Linked DNA regions of Homo sapiens: regions 1, 2, 4, 5 and 6 are each linked to region 3. The links come from fine-mapping of genetic effects on gene expression. A gene starts in region 3. Each other region holds a variant in brackets. All regions are shown on one strand. Distances are between the middles of the regions.

The links. PIP is the estimated chance that this variant, and not a neighbour inherited with it, causes the effect.
Region 1: its variant is fine-mapped to the expression of TEK in whole blood (INTERVAL, PIP above 0.99). The same link has a PIP of 0.9 or more in neutrophils.
Region 2: its variant is fine-mapped to the expression of TEK in whole blood (INTERVAL, PIP above 0.99).
Region 4: its variant is fine-mapped to the expression of TEK in whole blood (INTERVAL, PIP above 0.99).
Region 5: its variant is fine-mapped to the expression of TEK in whole blood (TOPMed, PIP 0.97).
Region 6: its variant is fine-mapped to the expression of TEK in whole blood (TOPMed, PIP 0.98).

The regions. Positions count from the first base shown.
Region 1 is chr9:27,191,341-27,195,431 of GRCh38, reverse strand. TEK (TEK receptor tyrosine kinase) reads right to left here. Exons shown (of 23, transcript NM_000459.5): 11 at 2,809-2,943. Among named protein-coding and RNA genes, the nearest start is that of TEK, 84 kb to the right of the region's middle. The variant T/C (reference allele first, on the strand shown) is at 1,583.
Region 2 is chr9:27,241,377-27,245,467 of GRCh38, reverse strand. No RefSeq gene overlaps it. Among named protein-coding and RNA genes, the nearest start is that of EQTN, 54 kb to the left of the region's middle. The variant A/G (reference allele first, on the strand shown) is at 1,823.
Region 3 is chr9:27,107,383-27,111,473 of GRCh38, reverse strand. TEK (TEK receptor tyrosine kinase) reads right to left here and starts at 2,249. Exons shown (of 23, transcript NM_000459.5): 1 at 1,832-2,249. The coding sequence starts at 1,883.
Region 4 is chr9:27,209,668-27,213,758 of GRCh38, reverse strand. It overlaps TEK (TEK receptor tyrosine kinase), which reads right to left. Exons shown (of 23, transcript NM_000459.5): 17 at 862-1,052; 18 at 162-275. It also overlaps the pseudogene RPL36AP34. Among named protein-coding and RNA genes, the nearest start is that of EQTN, 85 kb to the left of the region's middle. The variant TATTA/A (reference allele first, on the strand shown) is at 2,482.
Region 5 is chr9:27,224,231-27,228,321 of GRCh38, reverse strand. TEK (TEK receptor tyrosine kinase) reads right to left here. Exons shown (of 23, transcript NM_000459.5): 22 at 17-116. Among named protein-coding and RNA genes, the nearest start is that of EQTN, 71 kb to the left of the region's middle. The variant T/C (reference allele first, on the strand shown) is at 1,607.
Region 6 is chr9:27,053,326-27,057,416 of GRCh38, reverse strand. It overlaps IFT74 (intraflagellar transport 74), which reads right to left. Exons shown (of 20, transcript NM_025103.4): 17 at 1,645-1,808; 18 at 958-1,083. Among named protein-coding and RNA genes, the nearest start is that of LRRC19, 50 kb to the right of the region's middle. The variant T/ATT (reference allele first, on the strand shown) is at 2,191.

The DNA.
Region 1 (4,091 bases), 84 kb before region 3:
TTAAAATTTCACGGGAGGCAGGATCTACTAGGATAAACGTATCTGAAACAGCTCACTGGGGATGAGCAATACATTTTTTTTTAAAGGTTGAGAAACACTGCTCTTACTCTTGGTTCGAGGTGAGAGGAAGGGTCTGTTTCCATCTACTGGGAATTAAGTCCCACCAGCCTGGTTCTGACTACCCTCAGACTAGTGAGAACCAGCAGCTAGGCATGCATTTTCTTGGCATTATGCAAAAGGTCTGATGGCCCTTTCTCTGTAACCTTTGCAAATGGAGAGAGGTGATGCCATCTCCTCTTGTTAACCTCTGAAGTTTAACCTCCAAAATAGCCACCCAGAGTGGTTTAGGCAGGTTTGCAATGACAAAGGAGAATGGGGAGTTGATATTTTGGAGAATACATTTACACCTCCTAATCCTGTGCCTGGTACAGAAGAGTAACTCAATAAATAGTCATTTCCCCTTTTCCCGCCCTTTGGGAACATGATTACCCCATACGCCTCCCTGTCTGCCCCTTTCTGCACTATGTTCAGAAAGTGTTCTCTTCCTTCCCCTCCCGGACTCCCTGGCCTTCACCATCTCAATCAACACACATAAACAGTGCAACTGCCAGACGAAATGAAAAGCAAACAGCAGCAAAATTCAAATGATGGGAAAAGAAGAACCTTCAATAATCCCCTTCCCGCCTACCCCTGAGAACTACTTTGAAATATTCTGAGAGACCTCCTGGCTGCAACACATTCTGAGGGCTGAAGACAGTACAGTGTGGGGCTGTGAAGTGTTTTATGTTCTGTTCCATAAATACTTTCCATCTGAGTCAGTTTATGCTCTTCCCCTCTTGACTCACCAACAGTGACTTGAGAGAGAATTAACTACCATTTGCCTTTTAGCAGTAACATGATGACATATCAGGGATCCCTTGGGTCATGGTTGTAGAGGTCCCTTTTTCCTCTCTATATAGTTTCTGGGTTTATTTTTTATATTCACAACCAGGTGGGTCCCCAAGCAGCCATTTCTTACTTGTGTGTAATGCTTCTATAAGTCTCAGAGTAGCTTTTGAGTCTCATTTGGTTCTTTAAGGATGCTGCTAGTAACATAAAAACTAGGTGGGTGGTGTGAAGGAAGGATGTTTCTGTTAAGGGTGCACAATCTCTGCAGAAGAAAAGTGGATGTTCTTCCTGGTTTTTTCACTCAATCATAACATATCCTTCTACTTTTAGTAAATGGAGTAAAACACAGGCAAATATGTGAACTGGGATAATAAGCTGGTGCCTTTGGGATTCTAGGTAGAAATAATAATTGGAGAAACAAAAGGATATGGAGCCTGGACTGGGAGTGGTGACTCATCCCTGTAATCCTAACACTTTGAGAGGCCAAGGCTGGGGGACTGCTTGAGGCAGGAGTTTAAGACCAGCCTGGGCAACAAAGCAAGACCCCGTCTCTACAAAAAAAATTTTTTGAAGTAGCCAGATGTGGTGGTGTGCCTGTAGTCCCAGCTACTCAGGAAGCTGAGGTGGGAGGATGACTTGAGCCCAGGAGATAGAGGCTGTAATGAGTGTTGATCAAACCACTGCACTCTCCAGC[T/C]TGAGTGACAGAGCAAGATCCTGGCTCTAAAAGACAAAGATATGAAGCCCGAAGATTTAGTATGGTGATGCATCTTACTGTTATTAAGTACTCTGAGTCTCTACTTTTCAATCTGTAAAATAGGGAAGATGATAATTCTTACTTTCCTAGGTGATATAAATCAAATATATATGAAGTTGAAAGTATAAAGTACTGACCAAGAGAGAGTAACAGAATGGTTATACACAGTGAACAATTCAAAGAACCAGGAATGGAACCTTACAAAAGATCACTCCAGTATTTCAATGGAGGGTACCTGGGTAACAGAAAGCTGGAGGTCAGGTTAGCATCAAGGAGGCTTCACAGAGTTAATTAACGCAATAGAAGGCCAGTCAATACCAAACACCACTGAGAAGTCCAGAAGTAATTTTACACATGTTATCTAGAACGTGTGGACCCAGGACCAGCAGCATCACTTGGGAACCTACTAGAAATGCAAATTTTTGAACCCCGGCCCCATCCTCACCTCAAAACCATTGAATCCGAAACTCTGGGGACGAGGCCCAGAAACATCTTTTAACAAACTCTCTGAGTGATTCTGATGGACACTTAGGTTTGAGAACCACTGATTTAGAAAAGGGAGGTAAATATAAGAAATAGCTTAAGGAGATGAAAGTGGCTACCTATAGGAAGCAGGACTGGGAGGTGGAGGGTGGAGCAGGAGAATGCTGTTCTTTAGATAAAAGCTTCTTATTCTATTTGATGTCATGACTCTGACCATGAATTACTTTGAAAAATTGGAAATTATTTTTGAAAATAAATAAACTGGGACTTCTAAAATATGCCTGTGGCAAGAGCCTGGTCTGGGCCCTTAAGATGGAAACAGGAAGCCAGTGATAAAATGCAGGAGCTGAAGCTCAGCACAGTTGCTGCTGTGTAAATCCCAGCTCCTAGGGGAGGCCCTGCCTTCCTGAAGGCTCATCTGCTTCCTTCTCTGTCCCTACAGAGTGCTGCAGACCTCCTCCCCCAGGGAGACAGACCAGGAGTCCAACCCAAATAAAGGAACAGTTTGGCTTGAAGTTGCTAGCCTTCCTGTCACTTTCCCACCCATTCAAAAGCGAACTCCTGCCACCTCCATCCCCACCCACCCACTCACCCACCACCACCCTTCCTGGTCTTCCTTCCTCTTTCCCCTTCCTCCCCCTCCCACCCAGCTCATGAATAAATGCCTGTTGGCTTCCACTGACCGATAGAAGCTGTTGTGAAGCGTCTCACAGGTCCAGGATGCCCTTCCCCACCCTCTCCACGACGGACCAGTTGCACACAGAGTTCATATTCTGTCCGAGGTTCCAAATAGTTGAGTGTAACAATCTCATTTGTCACTGAGAAGAGAAAACGTCCAGGAAACTTAAGTTGGCATTCTCTTACATTCCTTAAGCCGGGGTTGTTGTTATTGCGATGTGAACTAATTTTAGGTTTTCAAAACTACGTCTTAGTGAAACAGAGAGGCAATTCCATCTTCAAGGCCTCATCCTTCCCAATATGAGGAAAATTAGGCTTTTGAAATGTTTCCAGGTTACAATGTACACATTAAAGTGTGTATTTCTGTGCCACTTACACATTTCTGCTCTGGTGCTTTTGTCTTTTCATTTGTAGAATAAAACCTCACAAATCTATATGGAATACCAGATTGGGGGAATACTCAATTAGAATAATTTAATTGCTACTGTTTTCAAGTATGTACACTGATTGCAATCAAGCTATCGAGAGAAAAAGATGCTTAGGAGGTTTGCTCAAAATGACCAGAAAACTGATTTGCAATGGTCATACTATTACAATGAAGCATTCTGAAGTCCTTGAAAATAGCACCCATAAACAAATGGTATCTGTCTCTTTTCTCCTTACCTATTTGCTTTAGTCAGCCTCTGTTTCTCCATGGATACTGCAAAGATAAATTTCTGCCTTATCATATGATAAATTCCTACTTGGTAAGAAAAAAAACTGGGATGTGTTTAACAGTTCTTAGAAGACCACTTTGTGGATGTCCACTTGTAGACAAAGGTGATGGATTATTACCACCATATGACAGCAAAAGACCTAGCCATTGATGTTGGAAACAGCAATTCAGCAAATCAGCCTGACATCCCTGGAATTCTGAATTTTGATAGAATCTACAATAGTATGTGAAGGACTCAGTAATAATACCATTTTATTCGGTCTACCCAGGTCAGCTAGTGTTATTCAGCCCAAAACCCTCCTCCTCTTCTCTTTTTTTTTTTCCATAGTTTTCTTAATTATCTCCATATAGTGAATAGAGGGTCATTTTAAGGAAATCATAGGCATAGTAAGACAAAGGTATGGGCGGAGGAGGACATGCTGCCTACAAGCATGTTAGTGGCAGGTCTTTTTACAGAATAGTCCAATTGAAGCAGCATGGTCACTGATAATGCTCTTTGCTTTTTAAAATTGTGATTTTACATTATCATACAACAAATATAATTGTAATTTGTGTTTCAAAATAAATTCAACT
Region 2 (4,091 bases), 130 kb before region 3:
TTACGTATGTATACATGTGCCATGTTGGTGTGGTGCACCCATTAACTCGTCATTTAACATTAGATATATCTCCTAATGCTATCCCTCCCCCTGCCCCCACCCCACAACAGGCCCCGGTGTGTGATGTTCTCCTTCCTGTGTCCATGTGTTCTCATTGTTCAATTCCCACCTATGAGTGAGAACAGGCGGTGTTTGGTTTTTTGTCCTTGTTATAGTTTGCTGAGAATGATGGTTTCCAGCTTCATCCATGTCCCTACAAAGGACATGAACTCATCATGTTTTATGGCTGCATAGTATTCCATGGTGTATATGTGCCACATTTTCTTAATCCAGTCTATCATTGTTGGACATTTGGGTTGGTTCCAAGTCTTTGCTATTGTGAATAGTGCCTCAATAAACTTACATGTGCATGTGTCTTTATAGCAGCATGATTTATAATTCTTTGGGTATATACCCAGTAATGGGATGGCTGAGTCAAATGGTATTTCTAGTTCTAGATCCCTGAGGAATCACCACACTGACTTCCACAATGGTTGAACTAGTTTACAGTCCCACCAACAGTGTAAAAGTGTTCCTTTTTCTCCACATCCTCTCCAGCACCTGTTGTTTCCTGACTTTTTAATGATCGCCATTCTAACTGGTGTGAGATGGTATCTCATTGTGGTTTTGATTTGCATTTCTCTGATGGCCAGTGATGATGAGCATTTTTTCATGTGTCTTTTGGCTGCATAACGTCTTCTTTTGAGAAGTGTCTGTTCATATCCTTTGGCCACTTTTGGATGGGGTTGTTTGTTTTTTTTCTTGTAAATTTGTTTGAGTTCATTGTAGATTCTGGATATTAGCCCTTTGTCAGATGAGTAGATTGCAAAAATTTTCTCCCATTCTGTAGGTTGCCTGTTCGCTCCAATGGTAGTTTCTTTTCCTGTGCAGAAGCTCTTTAGTTTAATTAGATCCCATTTGTCAATTTTGGCTTTTGTTGCCATTGCTTTTGGTGTTTTAGACATGAAGTCCTTGCCCATGCCTATGTCCTGCATGGTATTGCCTAGGTTTCCTTCTAGGGTTTTTATGGGTTTAGGTCTGACATTTAAGTCTTTAATCCATCTTGAATTAATTTTTGTATAAGGTGTAAGGAAGGGATCCAGTTTCAGCTTTCTACATATGGCTAGCCAGTTTTCCCAGTACCATTTATTAAATAGGGAATTGTTTCCCCATTGCTTGTTTTTGTCAGGTTTGTCAAAGATCAGATGGTTGTAGATATGCGGCGTTATTTCTGAGGGCTCTGTTCTGTTCCGTTGGTCTATATCTCTGTTTTGGTAACAGTACCATGCTGTTTTGGTTACTGTAGCCTTGTAGTATAGTTTGAAGTCAGGTAGTGTGATGCCTCCAGCTTTGTTCTTTTGGCTTAGGATTGACTTGGCAATGAGGGCTCTTTTTTGGTTCCATATGAACTTTAAAGTAGTTTTTTCCAATTCTGTGAAGAAAGTCATTGGTAGCTTGATGGGGATGGCATTGAATCTATAAATTACCTTGGGCACTATGGCCATTTTCACATTGTTGATTCTTCCTACCCATGAGCATGGAATTGTTCTTCCATGTATTTGTATCCTCTTTTATTTCATTGAGCAGTGGTTTGTAGTTCTCCTTGAAGAGGTCCTTCACATCCCTTTTGAGTTGGATTCCTAGGTATTTTATTGTCTTTGAAGGAATTGTGAATGGGAGTTCACTCATGATTTGGCTCTCTGTTTGTGTGTTATTGGTGTATAAGAATGCTTGTGATTTCTGCACATTGATTTTGTATACTGAGACTTTGCTGAAGTTGCCT[A/G]TCAGTTTAGGGAGATTTTGGGCTGAGACAATGGGGTTTTCTAGATATACAATCATGTCATCTGCAAACAGGGACAATTTGACTTCCTCTTCTCCTAACTGAATACCCTTTATTTCTTTCTCCTGCCTGATTGCCCTGGCCAGAACTTCCAACACTATGTTGAATAGGAGTGGTGAGAGAGGGCATCCTTGTCTTGTGCCAGTATTCAAAGGGAATGCTTCCAGTTTTTGCCCATTCAGTAAGATATAGGCTGTGGGGTTGTCATAGACAGCTCTTATTATTTTGAGATACATCCCTTCAATACCTAATTTATTGAGAGTTTTCAGCATGAAGGGTTGTTGAATTTTGTTAAAGGCCTTTTCTGCATCTATTGAGATAATCATATGGTTTTTGTCGTTGGTTCTGTTTATATGCTGGATTACGTTTATTGATTTGCTTATGTTGAACCAGCCTTGCATCCCAGGGATGAAGCCCACTTGATCATGTTGGATAAGCTTTTTGATGTGCTGCTGGATTCGGTTTGCCAGTATTATATTGAGGATTTTTGCATCAATGTTCATCAGGGATATTGATCTAAAATTCTCTTTTTTTGTTGTGTCTCTGCCAGGCTTTGGTATCAGGATGATGCTGGCCTCATAAAATGAGTCAGGGAGGATTCCCTCTTTTTCTGTTGATTGGAATAGTTTCAGAAGGAATGATACCAGCTCCTCCTTGTACCTCTGGTAGAATTCGGCTGTGAATCCATCTGGTCCTGGACTTTTTTTGGTTGGTAAGCTATTAATTATTGCCTCAATTTCAGAGCCTGTTACTGGTCTATTCAGAGATTCAACTTCTTCCTGGTTTAATCTTGGGAGGGTGTATGTGTCGAGGAATTTATCCATTTCTTCTAGATTTTCTAGTTTATTTGCATAGAGGTGTTTATAGTAGTCTCTGATGGTAGTTTGTATTTCTGTGGGATTGGTGGTGATATCCCCTTTATCATTTTTTATTGCATCTATTTGATTCTTCTCTGTTTTCTTCCTTATTAGTCTTGCTAGCGGTCTATCAATTTTGTTGATCTTTTCAAAAAACCAGCTCCTGGATTCATTGATTTTTTTGAAGGCTTTTTTGTGTCTCTATTTCCTTCAGTTCTGCTCTGATTTTAGTTATGTCTTGCCTTCTGCTAGCTTTTGAATGTGTTTGCTCTTGCTTCTCTAGTTCTTTTAATTGTGGTGTTAGGGTGTCAATTTTAGATCTTTCCTGCTTTCTCTTGTGGGCATTTAGTGCTATAAATTTCCCTCTACACACTGCTTTGAATGTGTCCCAGAGATTCTGGTATGTTGTGTCTTTGTTCTCATTGGTTTCAAAGAACATCTTTATTTCTGCCTTCATTTCGTTATGTACCCAGTAGTCATTCAGGAGCAGGTTGTTCAGTTTCCATGTAGTTGAGCTGTTTTGAGTGAGTTTCTTAATCCTGAGTTCTAGTTTGATTGCACTGTGGTCTGAGAGACAGTTTGTTATAATCTCTGTTCTTTTACATTTGCTGAGGAGTGCTTTACTTCCAAGTATGTGGTCAATTTTGGAATAGGTGTGGTGTGGTGCTGAAAAGAATGTATATTCTGTTGGTTTGGGGTGGAGAGTCCTGTAGATGTCTATTAGGTCTGCTTGGTGCAGAGCTGAGTTCAATTCCTGGACACCCTTGTTAACTTTCTGTCTCGTTGATCTGTCTAGTGTTGACAGTGGGGTGTTAAAGTCTCCCATTATTATTGTGTGGGTGTCTAAGTCTCTTTGTAGGTCTCTAAGGATTTGCTTTATGAAACTGGGTGCTCCTGTATTGGGTGCATATAGATTTAGGATAGTTAGCTCTTCTTGTTGAATTGATCCCTTTACCATTATGTAATGGCCTTCTTTGTCTCTTTTGATCTTTGTTGGTTTAAAGTCTGTTTTGTCAGAGACTAGGATTGCAACCCCTGCCTTGTTTTGTTTTCCATTTGCTTGGTAGATCTTCCTCCATCCCTTTATTTTGAGCCTATGTGTGTCTCTGCACGTGAGATGGGTTTCCTGAATAAAGCACCCTGATGGGTCTTGACTCTTTATCCAATTTGCCAGTCTGTGTCTTTTATTTGGAGCATTTAGCCCATTTACATTTAAGGTTAATATTGTTATGTGTGAATTTGATCCTGTCATTATGATGTTAGCTGGTTATTTTGCTCATTAGTTGATGCAGTTTCTTCCTAGCCTTGATGGTCTTTACGATTTGGCATGTTTTTGCAGTGGCTGGTACTGGTTG
Region 3 (4,091 bases):
TTTAAGCCATAAGCCCCTTGCTCCACTGCTTTAGTCTACCAGGAGTTTGACTAGAGGAACGGGCTCCTATGGCTGTGGACATTATCTAGCTGGATTCTTGTTGCAATTATCAAGCCTTGAGCAGTCATGCTCATGGAGGCTTAGACTAGGAATGCAAGCTACGATCAAGACAACAGACCTACCTCAGAAACTAACCTTGCTAGTGTCACCCTTCCTAACAAGAACATGAACCTACTTCCTCTCCTTGGTCCTCTGCCTTTTAAAGGCAGTGCTGTTTTTTCCAGGGATCTGAGGTCTAGACATGGAACAAGTATTTTGGCTACATACCTTTTTGTTTGATTTTATGACAATTCTTCTAAGCCTGTATTGCAAAGTGCTATAACACAGTTGCTTTAGGAGTAAAAAAAGTGAATGAAAACAGTTGTGTGTGTATTAACCTACAAAGTACCTCAGAGAAACTATAGACACCTGGGCTTCACATCACTATAATCCCTGGTATAGAGTAAGTTCCAGATTTCATGTCACTGGTAAATAATGGCACTCAGAAAAAAAAAAATCAAAAATGGAATCATGATAATTATTTGAAGTACATATTATTGGAGAAGTCAACATTATTTAAACAATTTCCACATAAATACTGAAGCCACCTAAAATCTTTTAATTTTTAGCAACTTGTGTTACACATTCTTAAAGAATATTATTAAATTCTCAAAATATTGGTTGTTGAGAGCTATAAAACAAACTGTATTCAACTCAGTTATTTCATTGGATTTGTTTTTTGAATATTTAATAAAATAGTTCAAACACCTAGAAAATATAGCAGATACTTATGTATACTCGAATCAAATTATATTAATATGCCCTATATCCATGAAGTTTAGTGAATTTTCCCAAATTCATCTCCAATATCAATTCGATTTTCGTTATTAAAATTAGAATGTTTTCAAACCGAAGGGGAGAGACTGATGGCAATGATAAATGTATTTGTGATATGTAGTTCAGGTTTGGATACTGCCTTCTACCTATGTCACATAGGCTGAGTGAGCTACAGAGGCACACCACTATCTGGAGTATCTAAGCAATAAACACGCTGAACCCAACACACTGGCCAACCACTCCTTCACTCTACAACAGGCTTCATATACTCTCCTGTGTTAAAGATTTTGGTAACTGCCTAAATTTTTGTTTCATTGGGCCAGTAAACCCTTTATGAATTACTACATGGCAAACATTTTTTAAAATAAAACAAAAATTCTAATAGCCCCAATCTCCCTGACCCTAACTACAAGAAAAAAAAAAAAGCCTACAATTTCATTGCTTTGCTTAAAATAGGATGTAGATATAAAATCTTTTTACAGAAAAGCATCTTTGTTCCCTTTTAACAGTGACAATCTATACACTGCCTTAATTGGGCCCCTGTATTTCTCAGCATGAATTTCATTTTTTACTGAAGATTTTCTTTAAAGCAGGTAAAACCGGTTTGTTCTTTAAAAAAAAAATCAATAAGAAAAACACTCCAGAATGAGGAGCAGGAAAATAATGCATGATAGTAAGGGGATCTCTTCAAATAAGATGATTTAATCGGTCCTCAAAGAGTTTCTAACACAGGGGCCAATCACCCAGAAGACAAACTAGCAAAATCAGTTCATGCCACAGAGCCTTTGCATTTCAATCCTTCCACACATATTGACTGGAGACTCACAGAGAAATGGTGCCTTTGCTACAGCCACCCCTTGTTCATCAGCACTGATGAGATTTGGGGAGAGCACCCAGAAATCACTAACTCTGTTTTTTAAAATACTAAATTAAAAAAAATAAAGCCAAACCTTACCAGAAAGGAGCAAGCTGACTCCACAGAGAACTAAGCTGGCTAAAGAGTCCATGCTTCCCCAAATCTCTCCATCCAGTTTCCACAAATGTGCATGAGGTCCCAAGGATCCTTTCAAAAACCCAGCGGTTTGTGACTTTCCATTAGCATCGTCCTACTACGTCTTGTTTACAAGTTAGAGGCAAGAAGGAACAGCACAGAAGCAGGCTGTAACAGTCTCATTTCTGTCTGAGCACAGGGAGTTTTAAGTTCCTTTTTCCTGTTTCCTTTGTAGATTAGGATGGGAAAGGCTGTATCTTAAAGGCATTTGGTATCAGCAGGGCTGGGGGCACTCAAGCCCTATCCATCTCGCAATTCATCAAAACACTTATCTGTTGCTGTTGCTTCTGCTGCTGCTTTTGCTGCTGCTGTAGGGGCAGAGGAATTTTTGTTGGAAGTGTGGGTCCCGGTCAGCATTTTCAGAAACAATAGGGGTATCCTCTCATAGGCGGGAAACTGAGAATAACAAGCCCTCCACCTATGTATGGTATGCGATGATGACCAATCCTTCTCAGACTTCTAACAGCTCTCCCGGGGCTACTGGGATCTCTGACAGAAGGAGCTTTTGGGTGTGGGAAGCCGTTTTGGCTTTTGTTTTCTCATTTTAACCCACATGGTTTGAATTGGGAGAAGAAGGTTTCCGTGATGAGAAAATACAACCTGAAAAGCAATTAATTTCAGTGAGCACCGGTGAGGTCAATGCTCAATGTAGCCCCAAGAGACCAGAGTCCAAAATTGTTAGCCTGTTTTCTTTCACACAGATGGCCTGTTGGTTGGCCATTAGCCCAAAGATACCCATGTTGCCGGCTATAGCTTTAATTTTCATTAACAATTCATCTAAAGGTGATCAAATTTCTTGAAGAAGTTGGCATAGAAGGATTTTGGTAATGAGAAAGATTTGGTAGTCATTGAGCAATGGTGTTTCAGAAGCAAATTATATATAACATTTAAAAACTAATCTGTGTAAAAACACAAACATACAGGATTAGATTGGGATAAAAATGGTGCTCATGAGAGCAAAGAGAGTTCATGGACCAAAATGAAAATAGCCATGGAATGTACAATATCTAGAATGAGGTCAGAGACCCTACACTTATCCAGATAATTACTCCACAATATGAATTATGACATTAGATTAGAGAGTATACACTTTGCTCATCATCGACCTTCATGCCTGAGGAAATCATTATACTCCTCCTTTTCCTACCCACCAGAGGAAAAGGCAGATGCAGCTAGTCTTGACTAATTTCTGTCCCAGGTTTTATCACATCGATGATGATCTTAAGAACCAATTAATGTTTCCAGTTTGCAGGTGTGAAAAAGCCCAGGTTCTGTCTGCAAACAGAACTGGGTTCAAATACTGGCTCAGCCACATGTGTAGCTGAGAAAAGTTACTTAGTCTTTTTGAGCCTCAGTTTCAACAGCTGTGAAATGGCAAAAATATCTCCTTCCCAGGTGTTTTGAGAGGAATAAATGAGGTTTAAAAATATAAAACCATTTGGTACTATGCCTAGTTCTTTGAAGGTTCTCATTAAATGTTAATAAGTTTATTTTCTTTCATCTTTCCATTCAGTCTCAATTTAAATTCCAAGAGCTTCTACTAAAAAGCTATTTTCTATTCCTATGAGATGACTTTAAATTTGTCATCACGAAAAAAAAAAACAAAAACAGTGGGCCTGGCACAGTGGCTCACGCCTATAATCCCAGCACTTTGGGAGTGGATCACCTGAGGTCAGGAGTTTGAGACCAGCCTGGCCAACATGGCAAAACCCCATCTCTACTAAAAATACAAAATTTAGCTGTGCTTGCTGGCGTGCACCTGTAACCCCAGCTACTCTGGAGGCTGAGGCAGGAGAATTGTTTGAACCTGGGAGGCAGAGGTTGCAGTGAGCCGAGATCGTGCCACTGCACTCCAGCCTGGGTGACAGAGCAAGACTCTGTCTAAAAAAAAAAAAAAAAAAAAGAAAAAAAAGAAAGAAAAATGAAGTTCCACACAGGCTAAGTTACTTGCTCTGCTGTGAGTAGCAGAGGTAATAATATCTGAATCCTGAGCTCTGGACCTCCAATTTTTCCCTTGTTTCATAGTTGAAAAGTAGATCAAGAGTAATGTAGGACATCACAAACACCAGCAGGGTACACCTAGACCTTACAGAAGTATTTGAAATGAAACTTTGACAGATAAGAATAGTTTGGTGACACTGAGAAGTGCGGTCAGTTCTTAGTG
Region 4 (4,091 bases), 100 kb before region 3:
CCAACATTTAGAAAGAATGTTTCCCAGGGCACACAGTATCTACTGGGACATACAGTCAGATGCTTCAGTCACCACAGAGCACTGACAGTCTCAGAAGCAACATCAGGAGACAGGGGAGTACCTCGGAAAGGATGCGATCAGTGTCTGTGTCTGGCACTTACCATTGTCTTTTTCACATACACCTCTTGACCTCGGGACAATCCAAAATCTGCTATTTTTGCCACATAGTTTTCACCAACTAAAATGTTTCTGGCAGCCAGATCCCTGTGGATAAACTGAAATTTTTGAAAACATTATGTATTTTCAGCCTAATGAAAGCCCCAGGGCTGAAAACTTTGGGGAACAGGAAAGAAAACAATAGTATAAAAAAGGATTTTAAACAGTCACAATCCAGTTCCCTTAAAGTTCCCCTCCAAAATTCCCTGGTAATGGATTCTGCCAAATGACACACCACATCTTGGCAGAAGAATTTCAGAAAACGAACAAATAAAAAACACAGGTTGTTAAATCCTCCAGCTGTAATGTAGTGTGTCTCTGTTATTACACATTATTTAGAGGCAAACCAGGCTAAGAGAGCTTAAGGTACCTCGCTACGTATTAGGAAAATTATAAAATTTGCATATATGAAATTAGATAGAAGAAAATTATACAATTTTCATAATTATGAAAATTGCTAGATAAACATATTGTCAGTACTAATTTTTCTTTAAATAGATGGACTATTCACAGAGAGATTAAAATGAGGGAGATTTTAAGAAGGAGTTAAAGAAGAGAGGTTGACAGACCCTACAAACATATTGAAACTGACTTTAGAGGGAACTCCACAGGAAAGATATCCAAAGCGAAGTCCTCCGGACAAACCTGTTTTTGGCTCAAGTAGTCCATGCCCCGGGCCACGTCGGCAGCGAAGTGAAGGAGCTGCTGGGAGGACAGTGTGGACGCGGTGCTATTGGCAATGGCAAATGCTGGGTCCGTCTCCAGCACACGGCTCTTGCGAAGGAAGTCCAGAAGGTTTCCATGGGGCGCGTACTCAATGGCCAGGTACAAGTAGCCTGGAGGGAAGGAAGAGAGCATCGACTCATCAGTGGCCCTGAACAGCTATGACATTTAAGAGATGTGCTGTGGAAATTGCCTATAAACTCCATTTTGTCTAAAAAACACATCTAGCAACACCACCCAGGGAGCACTGGGGGACAGGAGGAAGACGGGTGACACCCTCCTGCAATACTCAAAAGGGGCCAGGCTGCAACGCTTGGTTTTGCTCCTTCCCACCCCCTCTCCATTCCTACCAAACCTGCACTCACACAGAGGGCTTCCTGAAATGCTTTTACCCACTCAGTAATAACAGTAGAGTGAGTCAAAGCATGCTCTTCCAGATCTCAGACACGTTCTTCACGTCACCTTTTCATTTGCATTCCATTTTGATCAAGGAGCTTAGTAACATGAGCCAGGCATGTTATTCTAGTCTGCCTCTAGCTATTCCTGAGGTTGTTATTATTTTTCAACAATTAAATATCCATGTGGAAGGAGCCACAACAGGTAATTGTCTCTCCTGCCTTCTACTCCTCCTCAAAACCCATCCTAAGTCACCATATTGCTGATTGGGTCTCTGGCCACCAGAGGTTAGTTTCAAAGATTGCATTTTGCTTCAAGATACCAGAAAACTCAAGCTTTTAGGAAAAAATAAAACAATAGTTCCTAGAAAAACTTATGGTTCATTGTCACTTTTTTGTTCCACATCATTTCTCTCTCTCTTTTTTTTTTTAATAAAACGTTATTTGCCCAGTTTTGTTACTTTTGTTTTCTTGGAATTTTTAAAAAATAAATTATCCCCTTGCGAAAATTTTTTTAAAGGGAATTTACTTGCTAAAAACATCGACATTTATACCTACTAAAAATGTAAAGTTAAAGTTATTTTACTGGTTTTTTTTAAAGAAGAATTTTTTGGGCAAACCATGTTTTTAAAATGATGTATGAATTAGAACTTGAAGCCCAGTGCAGTGGCTCACACTTGTAATCCCGGCACTCTGGGAGGCCAAGGCAGATGGATTGCTTGAGCCCAGGAGTTTGAGACCAGCTTGGGCAGTATACTGAGACCTAATCTCTACAAAAAATAAAAATAAAATAAAAATTAGCCAAGCATGGTGGTGCATCCCTGTAGTCCCAGCTACTTGGGAGTACTTAGGCTGAAGTGGGAAGACTGCTTGAGCCCAGGGATGGGGAGGTTGCAGTGGGCTGACATCGTGCTACTGCACTCCAGACTGGGCAACAGAGTGAGACCCTATCTATCTATCTATCTATCTCAAAAAAAAAAAAAAAAAAAAAAGCTTGAAAGATCTTCTAAGAAATTGAAATTCTAGCAAAAAAGAAAAGTAATATTGAAACCTGTTGCACTATAATGAAAGTTAGACCTAAATTATGGTATACATGTGCTTTCTCACATCTTTACTGAATTATTTTAAAATAATTTAAATATGTATT[TATTA/A]ATAAAGATAAAGGTAATTTACCTTAAATACATATATATGCACATATATTCATATATATACACATATATTCATATATATACATATATTCATATATATATATACACATACATATATTCATACATATATATTCATATATATATATATTTTTTTTTAAACTGAGTCTCTCTCTGTCGCCTGGGCTGAAGTGCAGTGGTGCGATCTCGGCTCACTGCAACCTCCGCCTCCCAGGTTCAAGCGATTCTCCTGCCTCAGCATCCCGAGTAGCTGGGACTACAGGCATGCGCCACTAGGCCCAGTTAATTTTTTGTATTTTTAGTAGAGACAGGGTTTCACCATGTTGGTTGGCCAGGATGGTCTCGACATCTTGACCTTGTGATCTGCCTGCCTCGGCCTCCCAAAGTGCTGGGATTATAGGCGTGAGCCACCACGCCCGGCCTATCTTAAAATTTTAAGAGCCAGCTATGTGCTAATGTGATGACGAAGCAAAATTTTAAGGGATATATTTTTGTTGTTGTGGTTTTTTTTCCCAAGAAGGAAGCTGCATTAATATCATGGTTTATTCTCTCCCTAAAGACCAACTGCAACCAGATGAAGTAAACGTAACCTCAAGATTTTATTGTCCTCAGAATAAAACAAAAGCTGAAACTTAGAACTGGATCAACTGGCCATTTCTCTTCTTATCTCCTCCTAGTGCAAAGTGCCTGGATCCCTTAAGAGCCAGCATTCTCTTAGATCTGCAGTGGGGTCAACACTAAAGCCTCAGCACAGTCTTCTTTGTAGTTTTAGCCTTTTTCCAGAAAACTGGTTTAGTCTGTCCACCACGGCCACTTGGCTTCCTGTCATAACACCACTTTCCCTGGGCATCCAGAGAATCCTTGCCCTTTTGTACTGTGTCATTTGTAGGGTTTGTACAGAAAGTCAGGCGGGTTTTAAGAACACTCACCATGTTTGTGGGAGTGCTATCAGCAAGGACAGCAGGGTGTGTGTGTGTGTGTGGTATGTGTGTGTGTGTGTAACTTTCATTTACACTCCTGTGCCATGCTCATTACTGTTTTCAGGAAGTAGCTCAAAAAATAAATGTCATTACTTCATTATTTAACCTAAGGGACATGATCTGGCTTTCAGAATTACACCCTTATTGGATCATAGAATGATAAATTGTTTGAAGCACCAGTATTTTTAGTTTAATAAATTGAGGAAATGGAAGTAGTCTCTTTTCTATTGTTGGTGTTTGTGCTGCAAAGTCAACAAGAGGCTGTCAAGTTTGTAAATAATTACTGCATGGAGCTTTTTGTGGGAGCAAACTTTTCCACGAGAAGTGAAGTTTAAGCAGAGATTCAGAACTACAAGGCCATGCTGCATGCAGAGGTAAACCCATAGAGGATTTTTGTTGTTACCTACTCACTCACCAGTAATTACATGCATTACAGTAGAAAGTACTCAATAAACATTTGAATTAATAACATAAATTTAACTTTAAATGCATGTGCAACACAGGATAGTTGTAAAGCTCCATTGTAATTGTACATGAAAGCATTCTGGATAAAAACAAAGCACTATCGCATGAAAGCTTCTTATAATTATTTTTAAAATCCAACCATCCTT
Region 5 (4,091 bases), 120 kb before region 3:
TGACTTTAATACTTACCTTTCGCTCCTCTAACATTCTGTTTAAGGACACCAATATCTGGGCAAATGATGGCCTCTCATAAGGCTTCTCCCGCCAGCATTGTCTCATTAGATCATACCTTCGAAAGCAAAGAATTAAAGGGTTAATTCTATAACTGTGCTTCAGTCCTAGGCACGGCAGGAAAAGAGAGGAGAGAATGAAGCCACCCAATGCATGGTTATGAAGCTTAACCAAAGTACAGCCCCTAGGAAGTTTCTATGAGGACTCCCACCTCCCTAAGCCAGTCTCATTTCAACTCCTCATAGATTTAGTTCCTACCCTCGGTACTGTTTCTGCAGGACCTTGGTCTCAGCTATTGCAATCATCTAGAAAGAACTGGGTATGTGTCTAGAGCAGCATTTGCCTTGGAATGCTGCATATTTCAAAATGTTAGTGTCTCTTAAAGGGCCCATGCTCAAACTTGTAAAATGCCACCCACATAAAGTCCCTTTAAGAGGCAGGACTTTTAGAAGCACTGTCATTAAAAACAAAAAAATGCCTGTTTAACCAGGTGCTATGGACTGAATGTTCATGCCACCCAAAAATCATGTGTTGAAACCATGTGATGGTGTTTGAAGGTAGGTCCTTTGGGAGGTGATCAGGTCATGAGGGTAGAACCCTCATGAATGGGATTCGTGCTCTTACACAAAAGGCCTCAAAGAGCTCTTTTGCCCCTAGTGCCACGTGAGGACACAGCAGAAAGATGGCCATCTATGAGCTAGGAAATGGCTCATGGCCACCAAATCTGCTAGCGCTTTGATCTTGGATTTCCCAGCCTTCAGAACTGTGAGAAATACATCTCTGTTGTTTATAAGCCACCATGTTTATGGTATGTTGTTACAGCAGCCGGAAATGACTAAGACAACAGGTTTAACACAAAGTTTCCAAAGTAATTGACCGCAGAACTCCTTTCCCCTTGCATCATGTATTTATATCTTGCACAACACGTGAAAACATAGTTTGGGAAACACTGACCTAAGACAGTGCTTACTCAGTTGTGCTCAGAACTACTCTGTTATTAAAATGCAGAATTCTGGAACCTGCCCTAAACTTACAGAATCAATGACTGACAGTGGGGACCAAGAGCCCACATGCTGAACAAATGACTCTGGGGAACCTTATGTGCATGGAAGGCTATCAACCATTGGCTTAGGGTGTCACAGATCCCAGAACAGCTTACACTTTAACATAAGTTTCTTAAAGACTAAAAAATCTTCTCACCCCTTATGAAGTGAATCTCAAAAGGTGGAATTTTAGGGACTGTCTAGTGATGGTCAACTATGTCCAGGTTTTTCCAGGATGGTATGTATGCTTCTTGCTCCAGTGAGATTAACACCCTCCTTCACTCTTAGAAGTAGCTCCATTTAGACAATAAATTATCTGCTCAACCTAGAGCCTTGCAGTCTTCAAACATGCCAGTTAGCTTCTACCACGGATAGTTCTGGGAATGCTGGTATCACTACAGTTCATTATTCTTACCCTTGGAATAAATCTTACTTTTGAAAGTAATCTTAGCAGAAGCAAGGTTCTAGGCAAGAAAATGTATCTTTATTTTTTTATTATTATACT[T/C]TCAGTTCTGGGATACATGTGGAGAACATGCAGGTTTGTTACATATGTATACAAGTGCCATGGTGGTTTGCTGCACCCATCAACCTGTCATCTACATTAGGTATTTCTCCTAATGCTATCCCTCCCCTAGCCCCCACCCCCCGATAGGCGTGTGATATTCCCCTCCCTGTGTCCATGTGTTCTCATCCTTAAACTCCAACTTATGAGTGAGAACATGCAATGTTTGGTCTTCTGTTCTTGTGCTAGTTTCCTGAGAATGTTGGTTTCCAGCTTCATCCATGTCCGTCCAAAGGACAAGAACTCATCCTTTCTTATGGCTGCATAGTATTCCATGGTGTATATGTGCCACGTTTTCTTTATCCAGTTTATCATTGATGGGCATTTGGGTTGGTTCCAAGTCTTTGCTATTGTGAACAGTGCTGCAATAAACATACGTGTGCATGTGTCTTTATAGTAGAATGATTTATAATCCTGTGGGTATATTCCCAGTAATGGGATGGCTGGGTCAAATGGTATTTCTAATTCTAGATCCCTGAGGAATCGCCACACTGACTTCCACAATGGTTGAGCTAATTTACACTCCCACCAACAGTGTAAAAGCATTCCTATTTCTCCACATCCTCTCCAGCATCTGTCATTTCCTGACTTTTTAATGATTGCTATTCTAACTGGTGTGAAATGGCATCTCATTGTGGTTTTGATATGCATTTCTCTAATGACCAGTGATGATGAGCTTTTTTCATGTTTGTTGTCTGCATAAATATCTTCTTTTGAGAAGTGTCTGTCCATATCCTTTGCCCACTTTTTGATGGGGTTGTTTTTTTCTTGTAAATTTGTTGAAGTGCTTTGTAGATTCTGGATATTAGCCCTTTGTCAGAAGGATAGATTGCAAAAATTTTCTCCCATTCTGTAGGTTGCCTGTTCACTCTGATGGTGGTTTCTTTTGCTGTGCAGAAGGTCTTTAGTTTAATTAGATCCCATTTGTCAATTTTGGCTTTTGTTGCCATCGCTTTTGGTGTTTTAGTCATGAAGTCTTTGCCCATGCCTATGTCCTGAATGGTATTGCCCAGGTTTTCTTCTAGGGTTTTTATGGTTTTAGATTTTACGTTTGTCTTTAATCCATCTCGAGTTAATTTTTTATAAGGTGTAAGGAAGGGGTCCAATTTCAGTTTTCTGCATATGGCTAGCCAGTTTTCCCAACGCCATTTATTAAATAGGGAATCCTTTCCCCATTGCTTGTTTTTGTCAGGTTTGTCAAAGATGAGATGGTTGTAGATGTGTGGTGTTATTCCTGAGGCCTCTGTCTTGTTCCTTTGGTCTATATATCTGTTTTAGTACCAGTACCATCCTGTTTTGGTTATTGTAGCCTTGTAGTATAGTTTGAAGTCAGGTAGCTTGATGCCTCCAGTTTTGTTCTTTTTGCTTAGGATTGTCTTGGCTATGCAGGCTCTTTTTTGGTTCCATATGAAATTTAAAGCAGTTTTATCTAATTCTGTGAAGAAAGTCAATGGTAGCTTGATGGGGATAACACTGGGCAGTGTGGCCATTTTCACAATATTGATTCTTCCTGTCCATGAGCATGGAATGTTTTTCCATTTGTTTGTGTCCTCTCTTATTTCCTTGAGCAGTGGTTTGTAGTTCTCCTTGAAGAGGTCCTTCACATCCCTTGTAAGTTGGATTCCTAGATATTTTATTCTCTTTGTAGCAGTTGTGAATGAGAGTTCACTCATGGTTTGGCTCTCTGTTTGTCTGCTATTGGTGTATAGGAATGCTTGTGATTTTTGCACACTGATTTTGTATCCTGAGACTTTGCTGAAGTTGCTTATCAGCTTAAAGAGATTTTGGGCTGAGACAATGGGGTTTTCTAGAAATACAATCATGTCATCTGCAGACAGAGACAGTTTGACTTCCTCTCTTCCTATTTGAATGCCCTTTCTTTCTTTCTCTTGCCTGACTGCCCTGGCCAGAACTTTCAATCCTACGTTGAACAGGAGGGGCGAGAGAGGGCATCCTTGTCTTATGCCGGTTTTCAAAGGGAATGCTTCCAGCTTTTGTCCATTCAGTGTGATACTGGCTGTGGGTTTGTCATAAACAGCTCTTAATATTTTGAGATACGTTCCATCAATACCTAGTTTACTGAGCGTGTTTAGCCTGAGGGGGTGTTGAATTTCCTTGAAGGCTTTTCTCCATCTATTGAGATACATGTGGTTTTTTTCATTGGTTCTGTTTAGATGATGGATTATGTTTATTGATTTGCATATGTTGAACCAGCCTTGCATCCCAAGGATGAAGCAGACTTGATCATGGTGGATAAGCTTTTTGATGTGCTGCTGGATTCTGTTTCCCAGTATTTTATTGAGAATTTTCGCATCAATGTTCATCAGGGATATTGGCCTGAAGTTTTCTTTTTTGTTGTGTCTCTGCCAGGTTTGGGTAACAGGATGATGCTGACCTCATAAAATGAGTTAGGAAAGATCCCTCTTTT
Region 6 (4,091 bases), 54 kb after region 3:
CTGAGTACCTACTATGTGCCAACCAATACCACAGGGCAAGGAATAAAGTAAACGAGACAGACATTGTCTCTGTCCCGTCAGAGCTCTCAATCTAGACCTCACACACTGTTCAAGTAATTATCAGCAAGATGAGTGATATGAAAAGGGGGCTGCAGGTATATATATCTACGCATCCTATGTAAATAATTGGAGATATGAATTAAGAAGTTCAAGGATACCTGGATTGCTCTTTATAGCATTATTTCAATGGTTTTAAAACTAGAAATTACCTAAATATCCAACGAAAGGGAATTGGTTCAATATATTATGCGACATCCATGCACTAGAATATCATTAAGCTATTAATATTTTTTAAAAGTCAATATATATATTGACAAGGGAAAGTACTTATGATGTATAGTTAATCATGAAAAACAAGCTCCTAAATGATATGTACAATATGGCACAATTTCTATAAATGCATAGAAATAAATGTGTACCTAAGTATATGCATAAATATGTGTATACACATATCTATCTATCTATCTATCTATCTATCTATCTATCTATCTATCTATCCATTGACTAAAAGAACCCACACTAAAGCAACAATAAGCATTCTCTCTTCTGGGTGGTGGGGTACTAATCATTAGAATTTATTTTATTTGTGATTTTATGGATTTTTAGTTTCTGTATTAGTAATGTTTCACTTCCAAAATTTTTAAAATATACTACCCCATATATCTTAACAGTTGTGCCCAAGACAGTATCTAACAGAGTTGGCTTTCAATATAGGTTTATGGAAGGTAAGAAAGCAGGAGTCCATTCATTCTGAATGAAGACTGTACAGAATCTGGCTGTCTTAAAAGTCAGAAAATCTAGAAGGTATATAAAGCAAATTTTAAAATAAAAAATTGATTGTTTTGGGGTGAAAATATAGACTAAGACAATTTCAAAGTCATTTAAAACATTTTTTACCTGAGAATGTGTCTCATTTTCTTGCAATTGTGTTTTTAGTGCCTCATACTCTATGTTTTGCTTCTCCATTATTTTCTTAAAGGCATTTCTGTGGGTTGATAATATCATTCTCTCCTGATGTAATTTCTAGAAAGATCCAAATAGAAGTGACAGGTTATAGAAAATATGTAGTAAGCCAATATAAATCATATTTAACTTAATTTCAATAACTATATTCTGGTAAAATTATATCAAGGCTATAACTACTCTAAAACCCGTTTGTAAAAATATCCTTTGAACTATAAGCTATGTTAACATTATCTGTATTAATAACTCTATTAATGCTGCCATATCTCTCCCGACCCTACCAAATTAAGTCTAAATTAATGTAAATGGCAATGGAAAGCCACTGACAAGTTTCAGGTAGGATAGAGTCATAATCTAAACTGCATTTAACAAAGCTCACATCTGCTGAAATGCTCTGTATTAAGTAGCAGCTTATACCTTGCTTTTCAATTTTTGCTTTTCTTTAAAACTTTAAGTCACTCTAAATTCCAACTACATATGTAAACATTTTTATTTTTTCTCACTTATATATATAAAATAATCAACTTAAAATAATAAATCCTATAAACCACAAATATATTACATTTGATCAAGAAAAAAACAATCTGAATTGTAATTCTGTAAGACTTGGTTAACATTTACCTTTATCTTTTCTTCACCTGATGATTTTAAAGCTGGCAAATCATTATATATCTCCAGATCAGTTGTCATTTGCTTAATTTTGCTTTTTAGAGAATGCTGTTCTTCAGTCATCTTACTTTCTAGAAGCTCCATTTTCTGCAGATCCAACTGCAGACGTTGAATGTCTGAAACATAAGAATTTAAGGTGATAATTAATCAAAATTTTATTCCTTTCACATAAGGAAATGTAATGCAACTATTAAAAATCATGTTTTTTAAGAATATCTGTAAAAGAAATATATGTTCACTGTAACCAGTGAGATAATATAAACTAAGAAAAAAAAATACTCATCCCCTCAATAACCAATTTCAGGTAACCAATATATTAGGGAATCAAGGTAACCTGATGTCTATTAGCCACAGCTGTCTCCATGCTAACAAACATTTAAGTTTTTTTCTTGCTTAGTAATATAATCTATATTATGAGATAAAGACACATTATTTTTAACAGAAGCATGACACAGTTATGTAGGGAAAAAACCAAGTTATAAAACATTATATATATAT[T/ATT]TGAGCACAATTTTATAATTGCACACATAATCAACTCTTACTATCTGTGGTAGTTATGTCCTATGAAGTTATTGTGAACAATGAGTTAGCAAATATTGAACTATTGCTCCCAAAGGAAATACAGAGTTAAGTTCCTGTGAGCCTTTAGTCACATTTTAGTCAATTAGCCAATACATAATCTTGCTTTATGTTTGTTTAAAGACATTTTATTTACTATAGGTTGTAGATTCACTAACATTGAACTCACAGCCAACAGCACTGTAACTTATGCCTGAATTAAGTTTACCTATCACACATTTTCTCCATAAGGCTATGATGTGCCTTAGGAACACTTAGCACATCAGCACTTTGCTTGGGGCCATTTTAAATGGCATGATCACCAACAGAAAGCACAAAAATGCAAAAAACATGCCACTAAATATACTGCAAAAAGGAAACCTCTTTATAGTATGAGAACTGACATAAGAAGGCAGAGTGTTGCCTTTTTCAACTTCTGTTGGCAATGTGCATGTCAGGCTGTTGAAATTTTTCACGAGTCTGCACATGCCCACAAATGATCATGAAAATGCTGCAAGGATTGATTTGGGGGGTACAAAGTAACTTTAGTGAGAGGGCAAATTCACAATATGAAATATATGAATAATGAGGATACCTGTGTGTGTCTCATTCTTCCATTCAAAAATATCAAGCATCTACTATGTGCCAGGTGCTGAGGATATAATAGCAATCAACAGAGACATGGTTTTCACTCAGGGAGCTGTATTTTAGAGGTAGAAGCAGGCAATTAAATAAGTATTTACAATAAACTGGATAAATATGAAAAGAGTAGCACAGGGTGCCATAAAAGCATGTAGCAGGGATGAAGAGAGCTCTCTAAAGATATGCCTTTCAATTAAAGGCTTAAGGTTTATGAATATCACACAAAGAGGAAGGTAAAAGTGTTCCAGCAAAAACAATCAGCATGTGCAAAGTCTAGAGGTAAGAAAGTCTAGTACCTTTGAGCCAGTAACAAGTTCAGCATACTGAATAGTAAATGAATATGAATGAATTTGAAGAGTAAAAAACAATGCTTCGAAAGTCACTGATTTGAGAAAACAGGCTGTTATCCAACCAAAATTTTTAAAGTTAGTATAATTAAGCCAGTATTTCTTGAATGTTTCCTTTTATCCCTTTAAGAGTTTTAAAAGTCAACCACAGCGACATACACTATTTAAAAATATATATGTGTATGTACACGTAAATACAAATATGTATATAGCAAAACTTAAATGTTGTTGCAAAGAGTTTTGTTTTGTTGGATTCTTATCTCTACCACGGTTAGAAATAGTTATGAGAATCAAAGAGCTGAACAAGTGACTAAGGCTTATGCTATTTTAATGCTCGAAATAGGAACTGTTTTTAGCCTGTAGATATTTTGACTATTTGGAGTAAACACTGATATAAATCTAACTGCAAGTTTAATTTGAATATATACTAGGGAAATACATTTAAGAACCATACAAATTGATTTTTCTTGATAAAAGGAGAAAATGGCTGGTATAGGGTAAAGTTTATCTTCCTTTAACAACAGGTCCGCAATGAAAAGCTAAATGCTACTCCAAGGGAAGAGACAGGAAGAGGATGCAGTCTAGTTCCTTCTGATATGCCGTGAAGTTGCAAAGTTTACCAAGCAGTGTGTACATAGGAGCAAAATCTCAGAAGGAACCACTTTGACCCGGGGAAGTGTTTCTAAGATAGTCTGTCATCAGCACATTTGTTTACTCTCTGGAGTTTCCTTTCCAAAAATATAAATAAAAAATATTGCTCATAAATCCCTTGCCTCTTTGCCCATGCAGTACACCAGTGTTTCTCAACCTTTTTCTTACATTATTGATTCCCTAAGAAGTCGATTACAGACTCTT